Homo sapiens: one gene and its partner. The protein of the gene in region 1 purifies or fractionates together with the protein of each later gene. This does not show direct contact. Each region holds a gene or a part of one and is shown on either strand. Other genes may lie near its edges. The genes, in order: ABHD8 and RIC8B.

Region 1 (3,818 bases):
GCATACAGGAAGTCCCTGACACAATCAGGTCTGCCTGACTCCTGTCTGTATCCTTTCCTCATTACAGCAGGGGCTGGCAAACATTTCCTTAAAGGATCGGATAGCGAATATTTTAGGTTTGCAGGCCATACAGTCACTGTTGGAACTTCTGATAAAACTTTATTTAGGAAACATTTTTTGGCCAGGCACGGTGGCTCACGCCTCTAATCCCAGCACTTTGGGAGGCCAAGGTGGGCAGATCACCTGAGGTCGGGAGTTCAAGACCAGCCTGACTAACACGGTGAAACCCCGTCTCTACTAAAAATACAAAAATTAGCCGGGCATAATGGCAGATGCCTGTAATCCCAGCTACTCGGGAGGCTGAGACAGGAGAATCACTTGAACCCGGGAGGCGGAGGTTGCAGTGAGCCGAGATCGCGCCACTGTGCTCCAGCGTGGGCAACAGAGCAGGACTCCATCTCAAAAAAAAAAAAAAAAACCTTATTTAGGAAACATTTTTCAAATCTCCAAAAGTGTAAACTGTATTTAAAAAAGCAAATGACTAGCCCACAGGCCGTACATAGTTTGTTGACCCCTGCTTTTGTAGGAATGAGGAGCTCAGCTTTGGGGGCTTCTCAGGCCTTCCATCTTGTATAAGGAAGACAGATATGTCATGCCCAGAGGCAGGTGGCAGAACATCCTGAAAGGGAAGGGATAGTAGGAAACAGTGACCTCCCCTGGGCAGCCGGAAGCATTTGTTTAATCAGATTGCTTTCCTACCACTTGCTGATGAGTAATTCTTACCGCTTTTGGGTCATGGTGGCTTGAAGAATCTGATGAGGGCCGGGCACAGTGGCTCATATCTATAATCTTAACACTTTGGAAGGCCAAGGTGGAAGGATCACTTGAGCCCAGAAGTTCAAGACCAGCCTGGGCAACATAGTGAGACCCCCATCTCTACAAAAATTTTAAACAATTAAAATAAAAAGTCTGGTGAAACTTCTGGATCCAGATTCTCTCTTCAAAATAAGTTCCATCCTCAACACTCAAACTCACACTTTCACGGTATTTGAGAGGCCGCACTCATCCCTCACCCCTTCAGGTGTCCATGGACCCCAGGGGAAGAATCTTGGCTTCCAAGGACCTGCCTTCTGGGTAGGGGGAGGACATGAACCCCCTCACCAGGCCGGGTGTCACGGCTCACGCCTATAATCCCAGCACTTTGGGAGGTTAAGGCCAGAGGATCACTTGAGCCCAGGAGTTCAAGACCAGCCTGGGCAACATAAGGAGACCCTGTCTTTATAAAAAAATTTTTAAAAATTAGCTGAGCATGGTGGCACATGCCTGTAGTCCCAGCTATTCAGAAGGCTGAGGTGGGAGGATCTCTTGAGCCCAGGAAGTCAAGGCTGCAGGGAGCTATGATTACGCCACCGCACCACTCCAGCCTAGGCGACAGCGAAACCTTGTCTCAAAAACAAAAACAAAACAGGCCAGCCCAGTGGCTCATGCCTGTAATCCCCGCACTTTGGGAAGCCAAGGTGGGTGGATCACTTGAGGTCAGGAGTTCTCGACCAGCCTGAGCAACATGCTGAAACCCTGTGTCTACTAAAAAATACAAAAATTAGCCAGGTGTGGTGGTGCATGCCTGTACTCCCAGCTACTCGGGAGGCTGAGGAAGGAGAATCAGTTGAACCCAGGAGGCAGAGGTTGCAGTGAGCTGAGATTGCATCACTGTACTCCAACCTGGGCAACAGAATGAGACTCCATCTCAAAAACAAAAACAAACCAGGCCAGGCGCAGTGGCTCAGGCCTGTAATCCCAGCACTTTGGGAGGCCGAGGCGGATGGATCACTTGAGGTCAGGAATTTGAGACCAGCCCGACCAACATGGTGAAACCCCATCTCTACTAAAAATACAAAAAATTAGCCGGGCGCGGTGGCGGGCGCCTGTAGTCCCAGCTACTCGGGAGGCTGAGGCAGGAGAATGGCGTGAACCCGGGAAGCGGAGCTTGCAGTGAGCCGAGATTGCGCCACTGCAGTCCGCAGTCCGGCCTGGGCGACAGAGCGAGACTCCGTCTCAAAAAAAAAAAAAAAAAAAAAAAAAATTACCTGGGTGTGGTGGTGTGCGCCTGCAATCTCAGCTACTCGGGAGACTGAGGCAGGAGAATCGCTTGAACCTGGGAGGCAGAGGTTGCAGTGAGCCAAGATGGAGCCACTGCATTCCAGCCTGGGGGACAGAGTAAAACTGTCTCAAACAAAAACAAAAACAAAGCAAAACAAAATGGTCACTGCTTGTATCCTGCTGACCGCCTCCCTTCAATCCTCCTATCACCCCACCCGTTCCGGGCAGTGTCTCTTTCTGCACATTCCTGGCACATGAGTACCCAGACCTAGTGCACAAGGTGATCATGATCAATGGCGGGGGCCCTACGGCGCTGGAGCCCAGCTTCTGCTCAATCTTCAACATGCCCACCTGCGTCCTGCACTGCTTGTCGCCCTGCCTGGCCTGGAGCTTCCTCAAGTGAGTGTCCCCACCCCAAAGACCGTGATCCTGGCCCTGGCGAACCCAGGCATCTGCTCGAGTTGGATGGGAGGGGGGACTGTACCGCTGGGACTAGGGCTGGCATCGGGGGCACCCCACGGCAGTCGGGCTGGCATAAGGGGCTCTAGCGGTGCCTCCACCACCACCAGGGCCGGCTTCGCCCGCCAAGGAGCCAAGGAGAAGCAGCTGTTAAAGGAGGGCAACGCTTTCAACGTGTCATCCTTCGTACTCCGGGCCATGATGAGCGGCCAGTACTGGCCCGAGGGCGACGAGGTCTACCACGCCGAGCTCACCGTGCCCGTCCTGCTTGTCCACGGCATGCACGATAAGTTTGTGCCGGTGGAGGAAGACCAGCGCATGGCCGAGGTAGAGGCGGGCACCTGGGGCGCCACAGCTACAAATCCCCAGGGTGCTGCCCGGGAGGGGCGTGGCCTCTGCGGGGGGCGTGGTAGCGCTTGGTGGGCGTGCTTTCTTCCCGAGGGGGCGTGGCTGCCGGGTGGGCGTGGCCTCTAGTTGCTGTATCTTGTTCTGACCCCAGGCAAACAGGAGCATTAGGTCTAGCATCAGAAGTAGAATCTAGAAAGCAGGGCTGCCCTGGACAGGTGTTAGCAATTACGCACTGTCCCCACCGCTGTAAGAAGGCTCTCCTCACAGCGGAGGATTTGTATGAGACCGGTGACCTATATAATTCTAGAAGACCGGCACCAGGGGATCTTTAGATTAGAAACTCTAATTAGCGAGTTCAGATTAGAAAGGGTCTGGGGATCCTTAGCACTTAGAATAGCCCTGGATACTAGCCCGGCGAGGTGGTTCACGCCAATAATCGCTGCAACTTGGGAGGCTGAGTGGGGCGGATCGCTTGAACCCAGGAGTTCAAGGCTGTGGTGAGCCATGCTCGCACCACTGCACTCCAGCCTGGGCGACAGAGCAAGACCCCGTTTCTTAAAGAAAAAAAAAAAAAAACAAAAACCATTAAAGTATAACTGGACTGGTGGTTCTTAACTAAGGAGGATTCTGCCCCCAAGGAACACGTGGAAATGCATGGAGACATTTTTAGGTGTCACGACTGAGGGGGAGGGGGTACTACTGGCATCTAGTGGGTGGAGGCCAGGGATGCTGCTCAACACCCTACAAATGCACAGGATAGCAGCCCCCACCCCAGCTACCCGCCCCTTCCCCGCCCACCCCCGCCCCCCCAGCAAAGAATGATCCAGCTCCTAATGTTGGTAGAGTTGAAGTTGACAAAATCCTCCTCCAGGCCGGGCGCGGTGGCTCACTCCTGTAATCCCAGCACTTTG
Region 2 (3,818 bases), on another chromosome or scaffold:
TGCCTCAATATCACAAAAAACACAGGGTCACCTCTTAAATATGCTGGATTCTCAATGAGTAAACCAGTTAATGTGTTTCTAGCCAAAGCAAGGGCATAAATGTTTTAGAGAAAAGATTCCCCTGGAGCTACAGAGAAAAGATGCTGATAAAGCAATATTGAGAGTTGAGCAGGTGATGCTTTTAGTCTGTGTCAGAGCTGGTCTCTTCGATGACAGAGTACTGGTTGAGTGCTTCCTCCAAAGGCGTTATTGTCCCATCAGGTTTTAGTCCCATTGGTTTAAGCAACTCCTCTCTAGAAAAAGAGATAAAAGAGAGAGAAAAAAAAGTATTCACCAGCATCACACACACACCCCTCCCCCCCACCCAAATCCACAACCTTTTAAAAAGAAAAGTCTTTAAAAACCAAAGTATTTTCCCTTGAGCTTTCTCTGTGTGTTTGTAATAGGAAAGATGAAAGGGGCATGGAAAGAAAAAGAGGGAAGAGGGAGATAAAAGACTTCATTCACACAGGCCAAACCTACTAAGCCAATTAAAAGTATGAAAAGTCAAGGTCTAAATGGGCTCAGGACAAGGAGCAGGTCTCTTCTGTTTTGAATAATTAACCTTTTTTTTTTTTTTTGGTGGATTGGTTTTGTTTTAGACAAGTTGAAGCTGCCAAAATTTCACCTGCCCCAGTGGTTGGAGCATACAATTAAATGGCTGATTTGATATGCATACACTTCATTCAATGGAATAAATCTGTCGGTTTTGATTTTGCCTCAGTCTCTAGTGATATGTAAGTACATGTTGATTCATTTCAAATTAGTTGGCCTTCCCCAACTCTCTCCCCGACTTTTCTTTCCTTCTCTCTCTCTCTTTCACTCTTTCTTTCCTCCTCCTCCTCCTTTCTAAAAAACACCATTGCTTTTGTTTGTGGCAGTTTAATTATGGGATTGACAGCCATTTTAATCTCTTCAAAGCTCCGCAACTGCCGCTTTTCAGCTAATCCAATTATATCTACTCCACAAGTTACAGCCTCATCTAAAGATGATTAATTATTGATTAAGCCAGTCAAAAAGCATTAGGAAAGATTTATTTAATCTTTTCATAGGCTCTTATTTATTACATGGAGATTATGGTGAATGTACCTGTTGAGTTGCTAACTCCAGTCCTCCCATCCCTAGAAAGGTCAGCAGTGTACTTAAGAGTGGCCTTGAAGAGCCCCATGAACTGCTTAAAACTTATTTATCACAGAAATGGGCATCACCCCCCAAAAACATGTCCATAAGCAAAAACCCACATGGCAGCAGCTATAATGTTGGTGGGATTTGGATGGAGGGGAAATGACTCCCTCCTCACAGTTGTCCCTTAGGCCAACAGAAAGAAGGGCTCCCTCCTGGGAAGGGGCAGCCACACAGTAGTGTAATGGTGTTACAGACACAGTGAAATCTCCTGGGGAGGAGTGAGAACAGCTCAGTGGTCAATGGATAAGCCAACAGGAGCCTAATGAAGAGCTCTGGCTAGCTCAGTAGACAACTTCGAAGTGTTTGAAAGCTTTGCTTGGGAAATGTGAACGTCTGACAGGCTAAATTGAGGCTCCTGAATACTATGAGGGAGGAAATGTGTTTCCCAATCCAAGAAATGGGGTCAGAATCATAGAACTTAAAGTTGGAAGGGGTCTGAGAGATCATTTAGTCCAACCCCCTTCTTTAATAAAGGAGACTGAATGACTCATCCAAGGTCACTTATCTAGTGGCAGAGCTGGACCTGGGACATGGGTCTCCTGAATCCTAGTCCAGTGATCTTTGCAGCCCACCACATCTGGATTAATTGCCCTAACTGCATTGGAGGAGCACACTGAGTTCATGTCTTCAACATCTGTTCAATGACTATGTGACAGGAACTATGTCATATACTGGGAGGTAAGGAAGACTGGGTACAGCTGCTGCCTTTGAGGAGCACGGAAAACAAATATATGCAAAAGTCATTTTGAGCAGAATGAGGTAAATGCTGTAAGAGAATTATGAACAAAGAAGTGAGGCAGCTCCTGAGATGAAGCACTGACCAGGCTGCCTGGGGAGGGCACTGTCAAGTGAGGTGTCAGTGAGTGGCCCTGCACTAGGCAGATGGGCACAGAGCATTTCAGATAAAAGAGACTGTAAAGAGCTCTGAATGGTCCCACTGACGTGTGTGATTCTCTATCTTTTTAAACCTTTTTGGATTGTGTCAGCTCATCTTTTCTATCTCTGTGCTCTCATGAAGCCGGGAAAGGGCCCAGTGTTTGGGGAATGGTGAGGTTCAATGAAGGAGGGGCAGGAGGTAAGGCTGCAAGGGTAGTTTGGGATGCAATAGTCAAAAATGTCTTAAATGCCAAAATAAGGAGTTTAGATTTTACCCTATAAAGAGTGTTTGATTACGTTTGTTTTATAAGAAAGTACCTCTGGCAGCAGCATGATAGACACATTGGAATTGGTGGCAGATAGACAAGTCATTAGGGGGGTCATCATAATAGTGTGTGGGGGAGGAGACAGACAGCTGGATTAAGTCTGAGGTTGTGGGAAGAAAAGGCAACATTTCTGAGGTAGATCTCATGACTCACTGGGAGGAAAAGGGGTTGGAGAATGAGAGTAGTAAGTAGAGAGTTCCTGTTGTTTCAGCTCAGATGACCAAGTGGATGGTGACTCTATTCAATGGGGCCAGGACATAGGAGATGGAGATTTGGTGGGGAGATTCTGATATATTTTAGGACTTGAAGGGCTTGAGGTGCCTACATGACAACCATGTAGAAATGTTCAGTGGAGAGCTAGAAACAACGTTTCCATTAAAACTTCTCTCTAGCACTGACGTAAATTACATACCTATATTTTAAATAAATTCCTAGTTCTGATTGTGCTAAAGGACTTTGTGATGTTGGACACTACATATTAACAACTGAAGCAAAAGGAGAAGAGGGAGAACCTGCTGGGAATGAAACACTGAGGGTCTGAAGGGGTTGGTAAACTCAGGTGTGGGGTGGGGACTGAAGGGTAGGGATAGGTAAAAGTAGGATTGGCAGATGGGACTGAGTGATAAACTGCTGGGTGGATATACCATCACTCCTGAGACTAAAACTACTGCATCTCTTTGATAAAAAGATGATTCTGGGGCTAGCTACTAACTTGTGTGAAGTATCTAGCACTTTCTCATCTAAACCCAGAAGTAATATTTTCAAATAAGTCTATCAGCTTTACCCTTGCTCCCTAATCCAATTATGCAAATAATTAAAAATATTAGTTTTATGGCCAAATTATAGGATTTCATTATGGAACAACGGGCCTATATTTTAATTCTTACTTGTGAACTATTCTCAAGCATTTACTTTCTGGGTGCTTTGTATCAACCCCCACTAAAATGGAAGCTCCTCTGAAGGTATGAATTATTTTCTTCTCCACATGGCTCTACGTAATGCCTGGGCTCATTGATACTTCTGTAGGAAAGGTGTCAGTGAACACTGGCCATACAATCATGCATTGTGCAAATGAATTAAGGCAGCAATGTGATGTCATGGAAAGAAAAAAAAGATCTGGAGTCAGGAAGTCTGTCTGAAGTCCTGGTTCTCCTCCACTTACCAGCTGTGTGATCTTGGGCAAGCTTCCGAGTCTCAGTTTCCCTACCAGTGAAATGGGGGTCGTGATAATCTTGGCTGTACCTACTGACTAGTGAAGATGTAAGTAGTGGTAGTAATAATAATAATAATAATAAGGTAGACCAAAGAGTTGTGAATTGTACAGAACAAATATTCGTTGTTATTGTGGTATAGTGAAAAGCACATATAGGTTTTGGAGTCAGACGGACCTGT

What was found.
Region 2: the proteins of ABHD8 (region 1) and RIC8B purify together in Homo sapiens (affinity purification with mass spectrometry; one large-scale study listed by BioGRID and IntAct). This does not show direct contact.

The regions. Positions count from the first base shown.
Region 1 is NC_000019.10:17,293,356-17,297,173, reverse strand, and holds part of ABHD8 (protein ABHD8), read left to right. Parts: intron 1-2,328; coding exon 2,329-2,499; intron 2,500-2,669; coding exon 2,670-2,886; intron 2,887-3,818. UniProt on the Homo sapiens protein: Negatively regulates NLRP3-driven inflammation. Promotes NLRP3 degradation through the chaperone-mediated autophagy (CMA) pathway, hence attenuating inflammasome activation and IL1B secretion.
Region 2 is NC_000012.12:106,882,379-106,886,196, reverse strand, and holds part of RIC8B (chaperone Ric-8B), read right to left. Parts: exon of another isoform or gene 753-3,818; intron 294-752; coding exon 182-293; 3' UTR 1-181.